4 linked regions of the Homo sapiens genome follow. The protein of the gene in region 3 interacts with the protein of the main gene of each other region in a pairwise test. Each region holds a gene or a part of one and is shown on either strand. Other genes may lie near its edges. The genes, in order: RAB2A, TTPA, FAM114A2 and MIEF2.

Region 1 (7,040 bases), on a different chromosome or scaffold from region 3:
CGCCACTGCACTCCAGCCTGGGCGACAGAGTGAGACTCCATCTTGGGAAGGGAAAAAAAAAAGAAACAATATAAAATATCAGAGTCTATCACCTATATACATAAGTTCCATCTACTGTTTCATGGAACTTACGTATAAAGGTATAATTTACGAATATTTTGTTATATGTGTAGGTGTATACACAATTTATTTACTAGGTCATGATGTAAAATACATTTCTTACTATAGGTCAAATCAAAAAACTCAAAAGCCATAGTACTTGACGATATACTTAGTGCAAAGTTTTAAAAATACCTCAGTTTTCCAGGCATTACATCATATTGTTGTCTTAGTTCACTCCCTCTGAATCCCACTTAAGTTGCTTAGGTTACTTAAGTATCTTTCTTTTAATTTATGGCCCCTTTTTGTTTAGGGTTTGCATTACAACCCTTACACTATTAAAAAACTTTCATTTTTTAAATCTCTGCTTCCTATTTCTTATATAACCAATTTATTAATAAAATGCCATAGTAAGAAAAATTTGTGTCATCTGTTGCTCTGACTAGGTCACTGCCCTTCACTGGCTCCCTACTGCTTAATGCGTCTAATTCAAAAATTGCTTATTCCCTGTTTTGATGTCTATCCACAGTTCAATTCATCTAAAAATAATCATCTCATTTATTTCTCTCTGTTCTTTCTTGTTCGTTATACTCCTGATTTTAAAGGTCACCCACCTACGATCATCAGAAACATCTCGTTTACATACTATGCTTTGTTTATTTCTTCTCACATTTGAACTATCAGCTCCTAGTGGTCGGTGACCAAATTTAAGCCACCAGTAAGCTGTCACTCATCATGTTTCAGCCACAAGGAAAAAATTGGTAAAATAAAAGGATAAAAATTCTCTTTATTTTCCAAGTATTCTCCTCTTATTATTTCATACCTTGAATGACAGAATAACTATTTCCATCATAGAAAGACTAAAACTTCCCTCCAATAGCTTTATAACCTTAAAAAGGTTTAGTGAGATGATTTAAATGTGGAAAAGAATACCCAAGAAAGGCCTTCAGAGAATATGATAATAGTTTCTTCTCTACACAAAGAAGTAAACAATGTTTAGCTTTTTATAATGTAAATATCACTTAGGTAATATTTTCTCTTAATAGCAAATCTCAATTTCTATTAAAACAACACTCTAAAATCTATACAGTATAACGATGTTTTACATTATAGCTTTTTTGAGGTGTAACAGACATAAAAGAAGTTGTACTTAAATGCAAAATTTGTTGAGTTTTAAGATATGTAAGCCCGTGAAGCCATCAGTCTCCCAAAAGTTTCCTCATACTCCATTGTAATCCATCCCTTCTTGCCCCTGCACCCTAGGCAGCTGATGATCTGCTTTCTGCCACTACAGATTAGTACACATTTACTAGGATTTTTATATAAATGTAATCACATGGTATTTTTGGTCTGAGTTTTTTCACTCTGTAATTATTTTGAGAATCATCCATTTTGCTGCATGTATCAATAGTTCATTCCTCTTTATAGCTGAGTTGTAGTCTGTTGTAATGCTGTATCACTATTTTTCGATTCATCTGTTAATTGATATTTGGGTTGTTTCCAGTTTGGGGCTATTAGAAATAAAGCTGGTATGAATATTTGTACATAATTCTGTGGACACATGAAGACATATTTATGTTGGGTAAACATCTGGGAGTAAAGTGGCTAGGAAATATAGATGTGTGCTTTATTTCTTTTTTTTGAGACAGGGTCTTGCTCTGTGGCCTAGGCTGGAATACAGTGGCATGATCATGGCTCACTGCAGCCTTGACCTCTCAGGCTTAAGTGATCCTACCACCTCAGCCTCTGGAGTAGCTGGGACTACAAGTATGTACCACCATGTTCAGCTACTTTTTTAAAAAATTTCTTATTTTTGTATAGAAGAAGTCTCCCTACATTGCCCAGGCTGGTCTCAAACTCCTAGGCTGAAGCAATCCTCCCGCCTCGGCCTTTTAATTTCTAAAGAAACTACCAAATTGTTTTCCAAAGTGATTGTATCATTTTACGTTCCCATCAGTAGTATATCTTCTGTAGTAATTGCTGGTTCAAATCTTTAGATCATTTTTAAAAAGTGGATGTCTTCTTATTAATGAATTATAAGCATTCTTCATATATTCTAGATATAAATCCTTTGTCAGATACATTTTTCACAAATATTTTCTGCTAGTCTGTAGCTTGTCTTTTCATTTTTGTAACCGTTTTTCTTCAAATTTATTTATTTAAATTGATAGGTAAAATTGCATATATTTATCATGTACAACATATTGTTTTAAAGTATATATACACTGTGGAATGGTTAATCTAGCTAATTTGCATTATCTCACAGTTATCGTTTTTTGTGGTGAGAACACTTAACATCCACTCTTTCAGCATTTTTCCAGAATGCACTATATCATCATTAACCATGTCACGATGTTGTATAATAGTGTAACCGTCTTTTGAAGAACAAAAGTTTTAAATTCAGTTAAAGAACAATTTATTGATTTTTTTTCTGAACTATAAGTTCATGCTTTTCTCTGTCCCATTTAAGAAATGTTTGCCAAAACAGGGTCACTACAATTTGTTTTCTTTTAGAAATTTTAAGTAGTTTTAGCTCTCACACTTAGGTCTATGATCCACTTCCAGTTAATTTTTGTAAATGGTATAATGTAACAGTTGAGGTTCATATTTTTACATATGACTATTAACTGTTTCAGCACCATTTGATGAAAAAGATTACCCCTTCTTCAACTAAATTAGCATCTCTGTCAAAAAATTAATATATCATATATATATGAATCTACTTCTGGAACTTCTTATTCGGCTCTACTGATCTATGTCTGCTTATGCCAAACAATAGTAAATTGACTATAGTATAATAAATCTTAAAATTTGTAGAATAGTAAATTCTCTCCAATATTGTGCCTCTTTGTCAAAGTTGATTTGGCTATTCCGTGGCCTTTGCACATAAACTTTAAAGTCAGCTTGTCAATATCTACCCTCCCAAAAAAGTCTGCCAATGTTTGATAGTTTGATTAGGGTTACAATAAATCTTTTTTTTTTTTTTTTTTTCTTGGAGACAGAGTCTTGCTCTTTTGCCCAGGCTGGAGTGCAGGTGGCACAATCATAGCTCACTGCAACCTTGAGCTCCTGGATTCAAGTGATCCTCTCACCTCTGCTTCCTGAGTAAGTAGAGCTAAAGGCGTGTGCCAGCATGCCTAGCTAGTTTTTTTTAATTATTATTTTATTTTTTGTAGAGATAGGGTCTTGCTACATTCTCAGGCTGGTCTTGAACTCCTTGCCTCATGTGATGCTCCTGCCTTGGCCTCCCAAAGTGCTGGGATTACAGATGTGAGCCATTGTACCTGGCCTTCAATGAATTTTTAGATAAATTTGAGAAGACATCTTATATTTAGTTTTACAATCCATGAACATGGTTATATCTCTTCATTTATTTAGTCTGTTTACAATATTCTCTCTCTTTTTTTTATCTATAGTGATGTCAACCTTTCTTTCCTGATATTGCTAATGTTTGTCTTTTTCCTGATCAGTATCTATTTTATTTTATCTTCTGAAGAATTAGCTTTTGGTTTCATTGGTTTTCTCTCTCTCTTTTTTTTTTAACGGGCAGGAGGCTTTCCTTAACTTTGATTTGCTCTTATTCTAGTTTCTTAAGGCAAAAAAATTAGGCTATTTTCTTTTTTTTTTTGAGACAAGGTCTTGCTTTGTTGCTCAGGCTGGAGTACAGTGGCATGAACACAGTTCACTGCAGCCTCAACTGGGCTCAAGTGATTCTCCCACCTCAGCCTCCTGAGTAGCTGGAATCACAGGAATGCACCATCATGTCTAGCTAAATTTTAAAATTTGTTGTAGAGATGGAGTCTCCCTGTGTTGCCCGGGCTGATCTTGAACTCCTGGGATCAAGCAATCCTCCACCTGGGCCTCCCAAAGTGTTGGGATCACAGGTGTGAGCCACTGTACCTGGCCCTAGGCTGTTCATTTAAAAATTTTCTTGATAGTACTATTTTAACTGCATCTCACACATTTTCAAAGACTGCAGAGAGAGAAGTTAACTTGTGGGAATAAACGCAAATAATTCCTGTCCATGGAAATGCAGACTGTGTCCTGTGGAATACAATTAATACCCTGTGAATACTGTTCAGTTTTGCATCCATCTTGTAAATTCATTTCAGTTTCTTTATTTGATTATCAATGTATAGTAATTTGAGTTCCCTTTTGAACTGGCTGAAATATCTTACCAGTTTCCTTATCTTGTTAATTAATGAGATAAAAGTTTTGAGATGTCTTCATTATCATATAAGTCATGATTTTACCTATCTAAAAACAGCATCTCTTCAGAGTATTTTATTAATATAACCCTAAAGAATGAATGGGCCGGGTGTGGTGGCTTATGCCTATAATCCCAGTACTTTTGGAGGCCCAGGTGGGAGAATCACTTGAGGTTAGGAGCCTGAGACCAGCCTGGGCAACAAAGTGAGACCCTTTCTTTATAAGAAATAAAAAGATAAACTAGCTGTGGTTGTGCATGCCTACAGTCTCAGCCACTTTGGAGGCTGAGGCAGGAGGATTCCCTTGAGCCCGGGAGGCCAAGCTGCAGTGAGCTATGATCACACCACTGCACTCTAGCCTGGGTAACAGAGTGAGTCCCTGTCTCAAACAAAACAAAACAAAACAAAACAAAACAAAACAAAACAAAACAAAAAGAATGGTGCCTAGCATTTTGAAAATACTAATATTTTCTTACCACTGTAAGTTTCTACAAAAATTAGTGAAAACTTTCCCACACTCTTAGAAGTTTATGGAAACTGGTCAAGCAAGAAGGTTTTCCCATATAATAGCATTTTAAATTGACAGCACAAAGATGTTCAATCCAACTCCCCAAATAAATCAGTAGGCTTTACTTTACATCAGTAATCTGATAAAACTCCTTCAGATTACTTTTTAAAGTATTTCTTTACACAAAAACTATTTCTAATAATAACAGTAATAATTTCCAACAAAGCTTATTAACATCATTTTAAAAATCAAAAGAAACACCTTAGAATTTCCGAAATTTTATAATTTAAGAGGCTGGTAACTCACATTTGAACAAATGTTAAGGAAAGTAGTCAAATAAACAGTACAGTCTTCATCACTAATGCAATGTAAGCTCTAAATTAGCCTTTTTACCTTTTATTTCCAATAAGCATAATGACCATGTTGGAATTGGAATGCTGGCGGGCATCTTCTAACCAGGTTGTCAAGTGGTTGAATGTATCTCTCCTAAACATAAATAATAATTTAATTACTATGTTCAAAGCATTTCCCTCAGTATACAACGAACAATATACATATTTTTAAAGAGAACCACTTTTAGCCATATCCACTTATGTAACGAGAAGTAGTTTTAAGCACCATATCTGGGTTTAGAGTTCACTGATTGTATTTCAGTTTATAAATTAAATGTAATCACACTTTAGAAAATTCCAATGAATAAATAATATGGCCGATTTCAATTTGAAGGTGCTAATTCAAATAAGAAAAACAATTCAGTTGCAGGTTTCTGTAGTAAATTTAAATTGGACTCAAGATGCAGTTTTAAAGGTGAGTAGCCGGGGCAGAAAGGCTAAGCTATTCTTTCATTACTGTTAACCACATCTATTTAGAAAAATTCTCTGTATCAACTACTGAATTGCAAAGTTTTCAAGTTCTCACCGTGTAATATCGTAAACTAGTAAAGCTCCTGCTGCACCTCTGTAATACGACCTTGTGATGGAACGAAAGGATTCTTGCCCTGCCTGTAACGAAAAAAAAGGTTGGAGAGTTTCCTTTAATACAATGTCCTCTACATTTTCATATTATTCATATACAGAATAAGAGCAGGTAGGGAAGGAGTGCATAAAGAGAGACAAGAAAACTTAACTTCACCAGTCTTAGGAAAAAGTTACAAAACACCGCTATTGCTCAAGATTGCTCAAGTCAACGAGACGCACATGTAGTGCACATGTAGTCGCTCCTGCAACCTCCCCAGCCCGCAAGACCTCTAAACCCTTTTTGGCAATCCCTGACAACCCAATTTACTGAATGGCTTCACAATACACGAATCATTATTAAAGGACAGAATGGACTCCTAGCAACTAAGCTCTGAAGACAAATTTGAAAGGAAGCAAATAACCCAGAGCCTCACATTTGAATTCAATAACCCACTCCCTGGGGCAGCTGTTGACACTAGAATAAATAAAACCCATTGTAAATAAATGATGAATGACATCTTTACGCCCACCATCTGCTGGTGTAAAGGTTGTTGGAAGGCCAAGGATGCAGATTTTATCAGTTATATCATAAACTGCAGTGAGCTTTCAACAGTCATCAAATGGAATTCTTTGAGCAATCATTTTATTATGAAAAGCAAAATGGTTCTGAATTTAATTTATATAAGTTTTTTTCTCCACACTTAATCAATTTTCTCTGTATTTGATATATAATGCTTGTCAAAAGGCAACAGGATGTAAAAGTCATCTTTATATCCACTTGTGAAACAGACACAAGAGATTATGCAAAGCTAGGTAATTTCTCTTTTACTCATGGTACTAATTTCTGTTTTTTTAAGAATTGCTGGGGAGGAATGTGACTGTTCTGTCTGAGTTTAAAACCGAGACAGCTCTTATAAGAAGTTATTTTTCATTTTTAATCCCTTCTTTTCCTACTTTTGCAAAAACATAAGCATTTTAATTAAGTAAACGTAAAGCCAATTTTAACGATTTTTATATTCAAAATCCCCTAACTTGAAAAATATTGATGTTTACACATTCTGAGTTCTGATCTTGCAATGTAAATATTTAGCCCTTCCCACCCTCAGAATGCGCATGGACGGCTCATATTCTACCCTGTTTAACACTCAACACTCTACAATACCTTGCTCTTGTTGACCCTTCCTCTATACTCCCTCCCTCCCCCATCCCCCACCCCCTGCATGTGACTAAGTGTGTGCTAGGCACTGGGTCCGGCATATAGCAGGCATT
Region 2 (7,040 bases), on a different chromosome or scaffold from region 3:
GGAAGCTGAGGCAGGAGAATCGCTTGAACTCGGGAGGCAGAGGTTGTAGTGAGTCGAGATGGCCCACTGCTCTCCAGCCTGGGCAACAGAACAAGACTCTGTCTCAAAAAAACAAAACAAAACAAAACAAAACAAAAAAACAAGCCTCAGATTTCTCATAAGAATTTGAACAATCAACCCATGGATAACCCAGATCAAAAATACTATACTAACTTCAGACATTGGCTGAATGCTATAATGATTAAAAAAAAAAAAAAGAACATATGAAGTTTGCCAATCAAAAAAATAGTTTATGTCCTAAGTTCTGAGCCAACCAACATAATTGTTTGGCCTACACTGGCTAATATGGTAGCCATTAGCCATGTGTGGTCATTCAAATTTAAATTAAAGATTTAGTTTCACCAGGTGCAGTGGTTCATGCCTAGAATCCCAGCACTTTGTGGGTCTGATGGGGGAGGATTGCTTGAGGCCAGGAGTGAGACCATCCTGGGCAACATAGTGAGAATGCATCTCTAAAAAATAAAAATAATAAAAAAACTGGCTGAGTGTGGTAGCACATGCCTCTAGTCCCAGCTACTCCAAAAGCCGAAGTGGGAGGATCACTTGAGCCCAGGAGTTCAAGACTGCAGTGAGCTATGATTGTGCCACTGCACTCTAGCCCAGATGGCAGAGTAAGACCCTAGCTTAGAAAAAAAAAAAAAAAATCTGTTTCTTAGTTGCAGTAGTCACATTTCAAGTGCTCAATAGCCACATGAGAATAGTGTCTATTGTAGAACAGTTTCATCATCATAGAAAGTTCTATGGTACAGTGCTGGCTAGAATTTAAGCTCCATTGAGGCAAAAGAAAAATATACCTTATATTTTGAATTCCTTCTCCAGTATCTACTTAATATGTATTGAGTGCTTTTATGTACCAGGTAATGCTCTTGTTATATTTTAGATAGACAGACTGATAGATTGATTTAATGCTTACAGCAACCCTATGTGACAGCTTTTCAATGTGCCCATTTTACAGATGAGAAAATGCAGTTACAGCTACATAGTGTTTCACACAGCTAGAATGTAGCAGAGCTGAGATTCCAATCCAGGTCACATGCTCCAGAACCTGTATTCACAAGAACTAAGCCACAGTCAAAACTTCACACTCACTGTTAAATTTTACTTTTGCTGCTAGTAGTATACTATGGGATCTCAAAAAACATAAAATTATATCCTACAGCATGTTGGCTGATAAAGGTCAAAACTTAGCTTCACCTTGGGTTGCCCGGCCCGCATGGAGGAAAGGGCTGTGTGCATTTTCTCATTGCTTTTACTGCACAGAGATGGTATCTAGAGAAGGTGGTTATGCTAAAGTTCTACCGAAAAGTTCCACCACAGATTTCCTTCTTTAGCTCCTCCCATTAATTCAATCAAATTTAGAAAAGTTTTCATTTTACTCATAAAACTTTCTGAGTTTCTCCCTTTCATCCTAGAATAACAGAACATACAGGAGATTTGCAACATACCTTCCTGTTCTGACCATCACTAAGTTACATGTTTTCTTGATTTTCAAATCTCTTGAGTTAAACAATATACTTCTAAATTAATGTGCTACATGAGGCCCAGAAAAATACCCCTACTGGTTCAGTGTTAAGGTATTTATGATCAAAACTGCACATCTGCTTTCTCACTATCAAGGTGTCACTTTTACTTCTTCACCTGCCTCAGTCACTTTATGAACAAACTAGACACAATAAAATCTAGCCAGACAATGCAGAGCCAAGACATTTACAAAAATAATTAGCTGCAGGTTTCAGTTTTATGTTTCTTGGATCCCTGAGTAGAGTTGCCAGGTAAAAATATACAACACTCAATTAAAGTTGAATTTCAGATAACCAGTATATAATTTTTAACATAAGAATGCTCCATACATACTTTAAAAAAACTGTTGTTTATCTGAAATTCAAATAACTGGGCATCCTTTATTTTTATAACATATAGGTTTATTTCCTAAATAAAACATAGGTACTTTGTTAAATCTGGCAAGACTACCCCTAAGAAGCTCAAGGAACTTCATTGCTATGAGCTCATTCAATTTCCTCTGACACTGGTGCAGCAATGAAAGAACAGGAAGATCATGATGTCTGTTTTATAGATGGGATTTCATGATTAACTCAATTTTATTTGACACTTAAGCTAGGGCAAAAAAAATTAAAAAACAGCCCCAAATCATTTTACTCGATCTTCCAATATCCTTTCAAAAATTAAATACAGTAACTTCTTGCAGTATGGCAAGCAGTTGAGTTACAGGCAGGTATCTTATCTATAAGCAGGCAAGAAATGCAAATATTTAAATATTTTAAATCTTTAAAGATATAGTTGTTTCTGTAAAATTATAATTAAAAAATTCTGGTCATGAAATGTTGGTTTATCTTTGTCCTTCAACTGGGCCATGAGAAATTCTGGGAATAGTGTGAGTCGTTCTCCTGTGCCGGCCATTTTTAATCATATGCAGGTCTGAGGGAGGACAGAAGTTATAGGTCACCAACTGCTATGATCTGAATGTTTGCATCCCCTCAACAGTCATATGCTGAAATTCTAACTCCCAAAGTGATGGTAGTAAGAGGTGGGCCCTTTGCAAGATGATGAGGTCATGAGGATGGAACCCTCATGAATGGGATTAGTGCCCTTATGAGTTCCAAGAGAGATGCCTTTTCACTTCCAACATGTGAGGTTAAAGTGAGAGATGTCACCTAGGAACCAGGTAGCAGGCCCTCACCAAACACCAAATCTGCCAGTGCCTTGATCTTGGATTTCCCAGCCTCCAGAACTGTGAGAAATAAAATTCTGTTTTTATAAGTCACCCAGTCTACGTCATTTTGTTATAGTGGCCTGAATACACTAAGACACCAACCTACAAGAAACACTAGCTACACCTAATAGAAAAAAAGGGGATGCAATGAGAATAAACAGGAGTTAATGGAATACCGTGTCTGCAACAGCTCCCAGAGGAGTTGCCTTTCCTCTGCACCCTCCTCCACCCAAGAGAATGAGCCTCTTGCTCCTCGGCCTGGGGCATTTTCGAACTAGTCATTCACTCACTCATTCCACAAATATTTAGTGACTACCTACCAAGTACCAGACCATGTTTTCAGTGCTTGGGATACACCAGCAAACAGAGTAGATGAAATCCACAATCTCATGGAGTTTACATTATAGCCCAGAATTCTGGTTGTTTTTTGTTTGTTTGTTTGAGACGGACTCTTGTTCTTTTGCCCAGGCTGGAGTGCAATGGCGCAATCTTGACTCACTGCAACCTCTGCCTCCCAGGTTCATGCAATCCTCCTGCCTCGGCCTCCCGAGTAGCTGGGATTACAGGTATGCACCACCACACCCAGCTAATTTTTGTACTTTTAGTAGAGACGGGGTTTCACCATGTTGGCCAGGTTGGTCTCGAACTCCTGACCTCAGCTGGGATTACAGGTGTGAGCCACCATGCCCAGCCAATAGTTCAGAATTCTTATTTGCACTTCCTACTAAGCATTTTTGAAACACTTTTCCATGATTTTTTAAAATATTCTCACACTATTCATCTTCACTATTTTCCTTTCTTCTTATTTTGTACAGTTGACTGTGTGGAAGAATGGAACTAGGATTTTCACTTGTATCTGTTAATTTTCTCACAATTACCAAAGTGTTATTATATTTGGGGGACATTAAGACCTAAATTAAATCTAAGTTAAAACCTAAAATTTTAAATTAAAGCCCAAATTCCTAAAGATGAATGCATTGAAGCTTTCTATATGGTATTCAAGGAAGAAATGGAAGAAAGAGAGAAGAGGAGAGGGGAGGGAACACAACTGAACTGGAGGAGAGGAGAAAAAAAAAAGAGTTGTGTATGACTTACCGATTCTGTAAATAAGAACTTTGCTGCCAGTGGGATCCCTGGATCTCAGGACTCCATGGTAGCCAGCCTTTAGGAGGCCAATAATACTTCTAGGGTGTAGATCTGCACTTATTTCTGGACATTCTGCTCTCCACTTATAATAGTTTTTTAGTAACTGAAAAATAAAATTAAAATTGTCTACAAATGGCATACATGGTAATGATTTTGTAAAAATGGAAGAAAAGCTTTGGCATTGTGTATAAACTTTGCCATCCATTATGTCAAGAGTTTAATCTAGGGTATCTTTTCAGCTGTGAAAACTGAAAGTTCTTTTATCAAGGATCTGAGGTGACAGGGGTTAATCACAAATTCAGAGCTGAGCAACTTTCATTCACCACCCATGGTAGATATCCTCCAAAGACAGCCACCAATTCCTCCCCTCCTGATACCCATGCACCATTCTTCCCATTAAGAGATGGCATCTATTTGCTTCACTCCCCTTGAATCTAGGCTGGCCTTCCACCTTGCTTTGATCTAATATCAACTGGCAGAAGTGATACTGTGTGGGCCAAGCTTTAAGAAGCCTGGTACCTTCTGAATGTACTATTTGGGATCCAGACACTATGTGAGATTACTGAATGATAGCAATTCATGTGGAGAGAGGCATGGAGGTTGAGAGGACATCCTGGATAGTGTGACCTCAGCCAAGTTCCCATCTAATGCCATGTGGAACAGAGATGAACCACTCCCACTGAGCCCTGCCCAAACTGGTGATATCAAAAACAAATAAATCATTGTGTTTTCAGCCACTAATTCTTGGAGTGACTTGTTGCTCAGCAATAGAAAGCTGAAACACCACTTTTAGTATTTTTTGAAATAAGGAAGTATAGAAATCAATCAAATGAGTTAGAAGAGCCCAGGAGCAGTATACTTGGATACTGGATCTTGTCAAAATATGGTCTGAAGAAATCCCATTTTCTTTCTTTCCAAAAGAACCACCGGAAATAGCTAATCATATACGCAAACATACAAACACTACCAGCATATTGTGGAAAATACTAAAGCAAATTATGTATTTAAAAATTATTATATTTATATTTTAATTTTATTCTCATGATTTTTGGCACTCTCAATTTTTCACAAGTTACAATACATTTGTTTTGAGTTTAAAGAGACTTATTAATGTGAGACTGCAGTGCAGAGAAAATGACAGATTTTATATTTGAGAGTAATTGGAATAAACAAGGTAACTATAACCACAAAAATCACAATGATCTGGAGGAGAAACTACAAACGACAAAAACTAGAGAGGGAAATGCTGAGCCTTGGGAAATGTTAATGGCTGGGAATGGCTGGAGGAAGACAGAAACTGAGTGGACCTGAAGAGAACCAGCACTGGTACACGAGAGGGAGGACAGTGCCATCTGCATTGCTCTGCTCCCCCTCACCCCCATCTCTGATTTATCTCCCTCTCTTTCTCTCTCTGTCTGTCTCCCTCTATTTCATTTCTGTATTTAATAAACCTTTCTTAACTTTGAAAAAAGAGAGAATGTTGCTAAGAGTTAAATGCAAGAGAGGAGTAAGAAAGAAAAAAGTCAATTTGCCAACAAAGAAATAATTGGTGACCTAAATAGCAGTTTCCAAAAGCATGAGAACAACAGGCACATTGTAGGTCCTAATATCTTCATTCTACTCTACACGGTGCATTTCTCTTCCTCCTCCAGTCTTAGGGGGTACCAGAATAACTGTTAACAGTATTTTACAATGCTTTTTACTTTTCTGATAGTTTCCTCAGACATAAAAATCTTTTTCATTCCAATTCAAGTAAAATGCTGGAAGCTGCACATTAGTAACTATATAGAAATAATGTGTTTTTTTTTCCTGTGGAATGATAAAAGTTGTGGCTTCATTAGAAGGGATCATTTAGGTTTAATACTGGCAGGGGCCTCAGCTTATTCATCTCTGCAGAGTGCTGCACACCCAGGAGATAACAACACGTGTTGAATGAAAGAATAAATTAAGTCATGAGTAAACCAACTGGAACCACACACTTGAAAAACTGACTTCTGTAAAGAGGCACAAATCACTATCTCGCACAATTTTTGCAAACTGAAAGATCTAAACCTGGAACTTTGGTCTTTACTTATCCACTGATACATAAATTCACAGTATAGCTGTCATAAATAAATTATGTAAATAAACTGCTACTGAGCAATTCTCAAACAAACCACCCTATGTCCACAACAACAACAAAGAAGTGGCTAAAAATAAATATTCATCATTGGAAGGTGTCTGTTTTGCAAACATTAGAAGTAAATAAACATTTAAAATGTTATGGGTTAACTATGTTTTGTAACAGAGTAGGTTTCTTCTTACATGTTTCATGTACTTTGAAACAAAATAAGAACCACCATATTTGGAGCACTTTTATAGGGTCTAATGCCATCTTTTGAATTCCTCCTCACCATCACCCTGAGAAGTAGCTACTGTTGTGGCATTATAAGAATAAGAAAAGTAAAGCTCCAGCCAGGCACAGTGGCTCATGCCTGTAATCCCAGCACTTTGGGAGGCCAAAACGGATGGATCACGAGGTCAAGAGATCAAGACCATCCTGGCCAATATGGTGAAACCCCATCTCTAAAAATACAAAAATTAGCTGGGTGTGGTGGTGCGTGCTCAGGAGGCTGAGGCAGGAGAATCGCTTGAACCTGGGAGGCGAAGGTTGCAGTGAGCCGAGATTGCGCCACTGCACTCCAGCCTGGGCGACAGAGCCAGACTCCGTCTCAAAAAAAAAAAAAAAAAAAAAAAGTAAAGTAAAGCTATGAGAAATTACACATTTGTTCAAAGGCAATAACTATCAGGAGCAGAGTGGAAACTGAAATGGACACATGATATGAAAAATTTTATAAAAGAAGCTGCATTTAGAGAGAAATTAGCAGGGAGAATCTATGGAATTTGGAAAGCTTTGGGAAAACCATAAAGATAATTATAGCATAAAAAGCTTATCACATGGAACAAAAGTATAAGGAACTAGGCTATCACTTGATATAAGGAATTCATGAGACTATGTAGAACAGGCAGAGAAGTGAATGGTTAGCTGTTTTATATGTTTGTTGTTTTAAATATAAGAGGCAAGTGCAGTGTATTTGACAGCGCAGGCTCTCTCCTGAGCCCA
Region 3 (7,040 bases):
AAACTATACTACAAGGCCACAGTAACCAAAACAGCATGGTACTGGTACCAAACGGGAAATATAGACCAATGGAACAGAACAGAGGCCTCAGAAATAACATCACACATCTACAACCATCTGATCTTTGACAAACCTGACCAAAACAAGCAATGGGGAAAGGATTCCCTATTTAATAAATGGTGCTGGGAAAACTGGCTAGCCATATGGAGAAAGCTGAAACTGGATCCCTTCCTTACACCTTATACAAAAATCAATTCAAGATGGATTAGACTTAGACCTAAACCCATAAAAACCCTAGAAGAAAACCTAGGCGATACCATTCAGGACATAGGCATGGGCAAGGACTTCATGACTAAAACACCAAAAGCAATGGCAACAAAAGCCAAAACAGATAAATGGGATCTAATTAAACTAAAGAGCTTCTGCACAGCAAAAGAAACTACCATCAGCGTGAACAGGCAACCTACAGAATGGGAGAAGATGTTTGCAATCTACCCATCTGACAAAGGGCTGATATCCAGAATTTACAAAGAACTTAAACAAATTTACAAGAAAAAATCAAACAACCCCATCAAAAAGTGGGCAAAGGATATCAACAGATATGTCTCAAAAGAAGACATGTATGCAGCCAATAGACACGTGAAAAAATGCTCATCATCACTGGTCATCAGAGAAATGCAAATCAAAACCACAATGAGATACCATCTTACACCAGTTAGAATGGCGATCATTAAAAAGTCAGGACACAACAGGTGCTGGAGAGGATGTGAAGAAATAGGAATGCTTTTACAATGTTGGTGGGAGTGTAAACTAGTTCAACCATTGTGGAAGACAGTGTGGTGATTCCTCAAGGATCTAGAACTAGAAATACCATTTGACCCAGTGATCCCATTACTGGATATATACCCAAAGGATTATAAATCATGCTACTATGAGGACACATGCACACATATGTTTATTGTAGCACTATTCACAATAGCAAAGACTTGGAACCAACCCAAATGTCCATCAATGATAGACTGGATTAAGAAAATGTGGCACATATACACCATGCAATACTATGCAGCCATAAAAAAGGATGAGTTCATGTCCTTTGTAGCGACATGGATGAAGCTGGAAACCATCATTCTGAGCAAACTATCACAAGGACAGAAAACCAAACACCACTTGTTCTCACCCATAGGTGGGAACTGAACAATGAGAACACTTGGACACAGGGCGGGGAACATCACACACCTGGGCCTGTCGTGGGGTCAGGGGATGGGGGAGGGATAGCATTGGGAGAAGTGCCTAACATAAATGATGAGTTGATGGGTGCAGCAAACCAACACGGCACATGTATACATACGTAACAGGCCTGCACGTTGTGCACATGTACCCTAAAACTTAAAGTATACTAATAAAATAATTTAAAAAAGAAAAAGATACTTGCACACGCATGTTTAAGCAGCACAATTCAAAAGTGCAAAAATGTGGAACCAACTCAAATGCCCATCAATCAACGAGTAGATAAAGAAACTGTGGTATATATATACATGATGGAATACTACTCAGCCATAAAAACGAATGAATTAATGCATTCGCAGCGACCTGGATGAGACTGGATGCTATTGTTCTAAGTAAAGTAACTCAGGAATGGAAAACCAAACATCATATGCTCTCATTCACAAGTAGGAGCTAAGCTATGAGGATGCAAAGGCTTAAGAATGACACAATGGGCTTCGGGGACTCAGGGGGAAAGGATGGGAAGGGAGTGTGGTGTATACTGCTCAGGTGCACAAATTGGGTGCAGTGTATACTGCTCAGGTGATAGGTGCACCAAATTCTCACAAATCACCAGTAAAGAACTTATGTAATCAAACACCACCTGTTCCCTGATAACCTATGGAAATAAAAAAAATTGAAAAAAACAGAAGACAAAAAGCACTGGTAAAGATAACTATGTAATTATAAATGATATACATGTATATTTCTTCTCCTTAACTGATTTAAAAAGAAAAAGAAAAAAAAGTCCCTGTTTGTAGAGAATCCACACAGTTAACTTTATGTTTCCTGTCACAAGAAAGACTCTAAGACCCTCACTCAGAGCTCTTTGCTTTTAATAGACATCTCAAATAAAATTAGTTACCTGGTTTCTCACCCACAGATTAGAAATAGAAAACCAAATAAGATTCAGGGGATATCAGAAGCCAGCTAACAGTGAAGTAAAAGATGAACAGATAAATGAACAGAAAGAAATAAAGATGTACAATTCTAAAAAGCAATCAGAGACATTTCTAAAAAGCATTGCAGTTTAGGTCATTTAATCTGGTAATTCTCAAACTTGTTGGTCTCAGGACCTTGTTCTTGTAAAACTTTCTGAGAACATTAAAGAGCTTTTTTAGTGTAAGTTTTATACATATACATATAAAAAGTTATAAATATTTATATAAAGCTAAAACAAAGTGTTTATTAATTCATTCAAAACAGTAAACCCATACCACTTATTAACATAAACCTACTTTTTATTTTAAAAAACTATATTTTTCAAAAAAGAAAAAGTTTAGTGAGAACAGTGCCATCAGGGTTGAATCTCTTTAATATCTAGTTTAACAGATGACAGCTAAATTCTCTTATCTACTTTTATATTCAGTCTGTTATGTTGCTTTAAGTATATGAAGAAAATCCAACTTTACAAAGATACATAGTTGGAAAGGGAAGAAGTATTTTAATAGCCTTTTCAGATCATTATTAATATTCTTTAATACCACATTAAAACTCAACAAGTGGTCGTTTCTTAAAAATTAGTTGCAATGAACCATATTGCAGTATACCTGAAACCATATCATAAAATTTTGTACACTAAATTAAAATCCATTAGGTCTTTTACCCATGGTGATTTGACATTTAGAAAATATTGGTTCTCTGAGTTATGCAGACTTTCCAAATGCTGACACATTTCCTTGTTAAAATATCAAAAAGTGATATTTTAACAAATATGATCACCACCAATTTCATAAGAAGAGTCTATAAGCACTGGGAAGCTGTCAAGCTCACCACAGCAGCAAATATGTTTTACAAAGTTTCAACCTTCACTTAAATTTTTATCATGACTCACAAATAAATTAGTTGCTCTCCTTGAAGAAAAGGTTCACTTCATTCATTTTCAGGAAAATGTGTACCAATTATCCTATTCTGAATAGTCTCTGTGACTGTTATCCTTTCAAGTAAAAATGGTATTCCACGAAAAAAGCACATAGTTCAGCTCACAACTCAAATAATGTAAGTGCTTTTCCTGAGACAACCATCATACTTCAGTAGGCATCACACAGAATATTTGTAAGATGCATACTTAAAGGTAAAGATTTAATAAAATTAATAATTTTTACTGCTTCATCAAGGACAAGATTAAATAAAACTGGCACTTTTTTTTTTAACTGCCAATGCATGGCAATGAAAATGCAATGACACTAGTAGAGTCTGCTAACATCTTGATCCATGTTATGGCACCAGCAATTTTATGCATCATTGTTATTCACCAACAGCACAAATGCCAAAGCAGAAAAAAAACTCATTATAATTTTTAAAAAATTCCTAAGTAGACAACATCTTAGTATTATGATGCAGAGTTCTGACTCATAGACTCCCTGAAAGGGTTCTGGGAATTCAAGGGTCTACAGACCACACTTTGTTCATCACTGATTTAACCTACTACATGGGTGATTGGCCCTATGTCTTAATGAAACCTGAGAGAATTTTTCCATTCACTTTTAATGTTTATAACTGATTATTTCATGAAGAAAAGGCAAAACTGTATTCATTAGATTCCACTTTTTTAAAAAAAAAAGGTCAGTTAGTGTATATCTTAGAAATATTTCCAGCTAAAATGTCAATAAAACAACCCTTAGAACTTAATATTCAGTTGCCTGGCAATTATACTTTACGTCAGCCATCTCATTTCCTGACCCATCTCATTTCCTGATAATTTTGCAAATATACATAGTATCTACATTTACATTTTCTGAGAAATGAAGATATTAAAATATGGTATAAGAGTTTTCAAAATAAAAAAAGACAAACTATCACCCACATTTTAGATAACTGCCATCCTGCATGCTTCAATTCAAGACAGAATCAGGGGTTACAAGAGTCAGAGAGGCAGAGGTAAAGTACCTAGGAATATGAAAGCTCATATGAATGACCAGTCAAACTGAGGCAAGAATCTGATGAGAACAGCTTTCTAACTGCAAAAATAGGCAAAGATGTGAGTTGCAAGATTAGACCTTGAGAAGCCACAAAGGGTTTGGTTGGAAGGAGGCAGGGAGACATGGGCATAAGGCCAACTGCCCCCATCAATGCCTAGTCAGGTGCAAGGCTGCAGAGAATTTTACACAGAGAATTTGCATAAAAATTTTCACCAAAAAAGTAAAATCAAGCCAGTGTAATAAGAGTAAATAATTTATTTCAAGGGCAATGCACTGCATACAAACACACTGCATCCTCTCCACTCAGATACTAAATTTTCATATTACCTTTTTTCTCTTCTTCCTCTTCTTCACAAAATTCTGCTAGAGAAAATGTTTCTTTGAGTTGCTCTAATTCAACTTTTAGAGTCTCTAATTCTTCTCCACTCAGAGAATTAAGGATAGATTTCACCTGAATGGATACAAGAACAAAATGTTGTAGGAGTATGAAAGAAAAGAAAAACATTCACAAATAGGGAAGAGACTATAAAAAGATCATATTGAAGTCAAAATTATGAGCTCATCAGCCAGCACAAGTTATTCCTTAAGAACCTTAACACAAGAGGCTGGTTATGACAGAAAGGTAGGGAGACTCTGTGCTTCTAAAAGTAATACCAGCCAGAAATTCCTGGAAATTATCAGTGTTTAGCAACAGCTTAGAAATAACAAAAAAATTAGATAATCTTAAATCAATTAAAAGCTAACAGGTAACTGTACACAAATTGGCAGCTCAAGTCAACAGGTTTCTTGGCAGCCTAGGCCAAAGAAACTAAAAAAAAAAAAAAAAGACCAAAACGAAGGAAAAATAACACATGTCCTATTAAGACCTCTTTGTTAACCTTTTTTGTTTAAATTTAAAGAAATAATACTTGACTAATTCTGCTTTTAGCAATTAGTTCAATCAAACATTAGTTTTTAAATTTATTTTGTGGTAGTATTTCGAAGGCATCTCAAGCCTCTAACAAAACATACACTTCATCTTCCAAATGTACAAAGAGAAAGGAAACCATGCAGCATTCTTTTACTTGAAGACTTTTTCCAGTTGAGATTTTGGCTTGGAATTACCTTTATTTCACTTTCTTGGGAAAGCATCTCCAGAGCTTCTAGATGTGAAAGGCCTTGAAATTCATCAAAGAGTAGCCCATAATGAGTTTTCTTGTCTGTTTCCACGGTAACCTCATTGGAGGTCCGTATCTCTTCTTTCTCCTTCGCCTCTCGTAAAACCTAAAAAGAGATGGAGGCATTACACTGTAGCAAACAATGAGAGCTCAAGGGTGAGTTCTGAGAATTGAAGGAAGCAAAGCTTAGACAGGTTAGAGTACAGAGGATTGCCCTTTCATTCTTGGCACTGCTATTCAAATCTGGTGGGCTCAGGAGCTGCAGAAAGAAAAACGATCACACATAATTTGAGACGGAGTTTCACTCTGTCACCCAGGCTGGAGTGCAGTGGCACGATCTCTGCTCACTGCAACCTCTGCCTCTCGGGTTTAAGCTATTCTCGTGTTTCAGCCTCCCAAGTAGCTGGGATTATAGGCATACGCCACCACGTCCAGCTAATTTTGGTATTTTTAGAAGAGACGGGGTTTCATCATGTTGGTCAGGTTGATCTTGTACTCCTGACCTCAACTGATTCACCTACCTCGGCCTCCCAAAGTGCTGGTATTACAGCCGTGAGCCACCGTGCCTGACCACATAATTTGATCCTAGACAGTGCAAATCACACCCAAGGAACCAGGTGTTTCTCTGAAAGTGATTTAAACATTAAAACAAACAAACAAACAAACAAAAAACCCTGACAGGGTTTAGCATTTTGCACTGCACTGATGGGAGGCTCCTGCAGAAAGAGGAGGAGAAAAAGAGCTGGGTATTTTTGTAAGCAGTAGAGCTCTCACCCATCCCTGATCCCCCCAAAAAAACGCCTGAATAAACATTATTGAAAATGCTTGAAAAGAAAACACTAACAAGGTTCCAAGTAAACAAAGGCAAAAATACAGATCAAAACAGAAACAGGAAGTAAACAGGTAAGGATAATCAGTACCTGAGATAGTGTAGCATTTCGGTTCATCAGACCCTTGGTTCTTTTAAATCCAGGATCCCCTTCTGCTATCACATCCATTGTCTTTTTTCCAATGAATTCTAAGGCATCCAAACCCCCACTTATAACACTCTTTCCCTAGAAAATACATGCAACCTCATTACAACAATATTAAGAAAACATATTTTTATGCATTTTTATTATGTATTTATTATATAAAAATAGTGGCTAACAATACCAAGCACTGGCAAGAATGTAAAGCAAATGAAACAATCACACACTGCTTGTGGGAACGTAAATAGGTATAACCACATTAGAAAACTGTTTGTCAATATCTACTCCAGCTGCATGACCCAGAAATTCCACTCATGGTTACATCCTAACAGAAATAAGTACAGAGGTTCATCAGAAGACATGCACAAAAATGTTCATAACAGCTCTGCTTGTAATAGCTACAAACTGAAAACTACCCCAATGCTCACCAACTGTGGAATGAATAAATAAAACGTGACAAAGCTTCACAATGAAATACAACAAAGAAAATCAAATCTACCACACAAACTGCAGCATAGGTAAATTATACAAATATAATGTTGCATGAAAGAAGTTAGATACTATATATGATTCCACTTATGTAAAGCTGAAATGCAGGCAAAATTAACCTATGATGGTGGAAGTCAGGATTATGGTTATCTTGGTGCAGGAGAGGGGGAGAGCAGAAGACACAGAAAACTGGGAGAGGACACAAGATGGTGGGGAGATCTGATTACGGTAATACTGTT
Region 4 (3,431 bases), on a different chromosome or scaffold from region 3:
AGGGCTGTCAACAGCCCACTAATTACAGAAAGTATGGTGCAGGGCTCAGCAGTTCAGCCTTGCGGGAAGAAACATCCCAAACTGGCTGGTTCCCATTACTAAAGCAACACCAAGCTTTTCATCTTTTCCTTCCACTTACCTTACTTGTCACGGACAGAAAGTCTGTGTCCCCTTCAACTTGTATGCTGAAATCCTAACCCCCAAGGCACTGCTAACAGGAGATGGGGTCTTTGGGAAGTGATTCGATCATGAATGTGGGCCCCCACCCCATGGGTGGGCTTAGTTTCCTTATAAGAGACCCTAGGAGAGCATTTCCCCCCTTCCTCCACATGAGGACAGCTAGATGGGGACACCTATGAACCAGGATGTGGGCTCTCAACCAAACATGGAATCTGTGACTCACTCTTGGATTTCTAGCCTCCAAAATGGTAAGACATAAATTTCTGATGTTTATAAGCCACCTAGTCTATGGCATTTTGTTATCACAGCCCAAACAGACTGAGATGCTAATTTATTATTACTATTATTATTTTATTTTATTTTATTTTGAGACAGAGTTTCACTCTTGTTGCCTAGGCTGGAGTGCACTGGCACGATCTCAGCTCACCACAACCTCCGCCTCCCGGGTTCAAGCAATTCTCCTGCCTCAGCCTCCCAAGTAGCTGGGATTACAGGCATGTGCCACCATGCCCAGCTAATTTTTTTGAATTTTTACCAGAGATGGAGTTTCTCCACGTTGGTCAGCCTGGTCTTGAATTCCCAACCTCAGGTGATCTACCGGCCTCGGCTTCCCAAAGTGCTGGGATTATAGGCGTGAGCCACAGCGCGGGGCCAAGATGCTTATTTATTTATTTTTTTGAGACAGAGTCTTGCTCTGTCGCCAGTCTGGAGTGCAGTGGTGCAATTTCAGCTCATTGCAACCTCTACCTCCCGGGTTCAAGCAATTCTCCTGCCTCGGCCTCCCGAGTAGCTGGGACTATAGGTGCGTGCCACCACGCCCAGCTAATTTTTGTCTTTTTAGTAGAGTTGGGGTTTCATCATGTTGGTCAGGATGGTCTCGATCTCTTGACCTCGTGATCCGCCCGCCTCGGCCTCCCGATGTGCTGGGATTACAGATGCGAGCCACCACACCCGGCCAAGATGCTACTTTTTAAAGTAAACTCTACCACCTCCAATTGACCTCAAGCACTCTTGCCAAAGTGCCAGGACAAGCCACAGGACTTACAGAAAACCCTCAACAGCTGCGTATGAAAGCACCAAGACTCCCTTATCCAGCCTGAGTTATATATACATTAGAATTTTTTCCTTTTATTCTTGTTCACATCTTCGAAGCTGAGCTTCGTTTCAAAAGGAAGGATACCAGAGGCAGGAGGAGGGTCACTTGGGAGGGGAGGTGGAATCTCCCTCCTCTAGCCCCCTTGCTACCTCTTAACAGGCTTCAAAGTCAGAATACAGCCATCAGCTGAGAGCAGTTCATTTTGGCACACTGGGAGGCCGGCTGTGCACACCGGACCTCTCTAGTGGGGGATCAGGTCCTCTGCTCTCCAGTGGGGCCTGGAACAGCTCCAGTGAGATGCCCCAGCTGTGGGCTGGGGGTGCAGCACAGAGCCTCAGCTCCCCCAGGACCCTCAGCTGCCTGAAGAAAACACTCACCTGGCTGGAGGGAAAAAGGGCCTTGCCCTGAGGTATCAGGTGGGTGGCAAGTCATACTGAGCTCCCGCTCAGCAAGAAAACTAAACGCACAGAAGACAGCAGGAAAATGCCATCCTTTAACAGCCAAAAATCTGTCCTTCAGGGGCACCAGGTGACTCCAGCCCCTGGGGGACAGAACAAACACACCATACCTACCATCAGGCACCAGACGCCTCAAAACGCCTGGAGCTAGGGCCGGAAAAGGCGTTAAGTCACCTTCTCTCAGCAGAAATGTGAAGCTGGCCTTCAGCTTCTGCCCAGGATGGCAGAAACCACATTCTGTTGGTGGATTGGTTGCTGGTGATGGACAGAGCCAAAGGTCCTGGGGTTGGCCCCAAGAGCTGAAACGGTGCTTGCAGGAATGGCTGGCACTCCAAGCTGCCTGAGGCAGCCCAGCTGCACTCAGGTGACAGTGACCCAAGCTCTCTGGGCTCAGGGTTTATGGCCACCATAGCCCAAGCACATCCTGATGCCCTGGGTTTAAGTAATGTACCCTCCTTTGTTCTGGCAAAAAGCTAGAGAAAAACCACTATTCAAATCCCTGGAAGGGAGGTGGGTGCAGCTCCCCAGCATTAGAAAACATGGCAACCACCCGTTTCCACCCACCTAGAGCAGCCCCTCGGGCTCCTGTAGGCCACTGTATAGCGCATAGCCAATGTCGTCAATCTCCTCCTCACGCAAGCTGCTGAAGAGGTTCACGCTGGGGTTGAAGTGGCAGGGCAGGCTGGCCTGCTCCAGGCTGCCGATGAGCAGCTCCAGGGCTTGCAGGAAGCGCTCACCCAAGGCCTCCTCCGTCCAATCCACGTTGTCCTCCCCCAGACGCAGGACCACCTGGGTCAGGTGACCCCGGCCTAGCTGCCCCAGAGCCGAGCAACCACGGCAGACAGCACACAGCAGCAGCAGCAGCCGCCGGCGAGTCCCAGCGTCATGGTCGTCCAGGGCTCGCAGCCTAGCAGCCTCCACTGGATACAGGTCCTGCAGCCAGAGGTTCCCCGCCAGCCCCTCCAGGGGCCAGGCCAAGAGGAGGCGGTCGTCAGCATCGACCCCAGGGACTGCCACAAGCACAGCCACAGTGAGCTCCAGGCGTTCGTGCTGCACCTCGAGCAGCAGCTCCTCCGAGGCCATGCTGGGCCGGATCAGGCACCCGAGAAGGCTGCCAATGGCCGGCCAGTTGACAGAAGCAGCCAGCGCCTTGCGGAGTAGCTCCAGCAGGACGCGGGAGGAGAGGTAGCCCCCGACCAGGAAGCGGTCCCAGGGGCTGCTCCCACGGGGGCAGAACTCAAGCTGCGTCCTGCGCACGGCCCAGCAGCGAGGGTCCCTCGCCACAGTGTCCACGCCCGGCACCAGGCTCCACAGGCCCGGCTCCAGCACCAGTGGCACCAGGAGACGCACATGGTCCGCAGCCCCCGCCTGCAGCCCGTCGTAGAGCGGCCCCCCAGGCACGAATGCCCCAAAGGGCAGTTCCGGGAACTTGCTCCGAAAGTAGGCCTGCAGCTCCAGGGCGATGTCGCCAGCCAGCTGTTTGGCCAAAGCCACCTGGGCTGCTGGGATGGTCACACGGTCCCGCTCGAAGGCCAGCAGCCTCTCCTGCAGTGTCAGACACAGCGGTGCTGGGGAGCTGAGCTGTGGTGTCACCTCAGGATCAGTTTCTGCAGGCCCTTCTGCAGAGTGAAGGGGCGGGGAACATGTCGGAACAGCCTGTGATTAGTTAAGAAAACGCCACCGAGAACTAGCTGTGT

What was found.
Region 1: the proteins of FAM114A2 (region 3) and RAB2A interact in binary tests that used the Homo sapiens proteins (3 or more experiments, as listed by UniProt).
Region 2: the proteins of FAM114A2 (region 3) and TTPA interact in binary tests that used the Homo sapiens proteins (3 or more experiments, as listed by UniProt).
Region 4: the proteins of FAM114A2 (region 3) and MIEF2 interact in binary tests that used the Homo sapiens proteins (3 or more experiments, as listed by UniProt).

Annotation. Positions count from the first base shown.
Region 1 is NC_000008.11:60,582,984-60,590,023, reverse strand, and holds part of RAB2A (ras-related protein Rab-2A), read right to left. Parts: intron 5,817-7,040; coding exon 5,734-5,816; intron 5,302-5,733; coding exon 5,209-5,301; intron 1-5,208.
Region 2 is NC_000008.11:63,069,049-63,076,088, forward strand, and holds part of TTPA (alpha-tocopherol transfer protein), read right to left. Parts: intron 4,041-7,040; coding exon 3,887-4,040; intron 99-3,886; coding exon of another isoform or gene 1-98.
Region 3 is NC_000005.10:154,021,888-154,028,927, forward strand, and holds part of FAM114A2 (protein FAM114A2), read right to left. Parts: intron 6,397-7,040; coding exon 6,262-6,396; intron 5,448-6,261; coding exon 5,289-5,447; intron 4,636-5,288; coding exon 4,512-4,635; intron 1-4,511.
Region 4 is NC_000017.11:18,263,632-18,267,062, reverse strand, and holds the end of MIEF2 (mitochondrial dynamics protein MID49), read right to left. Parts: intron 3,354-3,431; coding exon 2,299-3,353; 3' UTR 511-2,298; downstream 1-510. UniProt on the Homo sapiens protein: Mitochondrial outer membrane protein involved in the regulation of mitochondrial organization.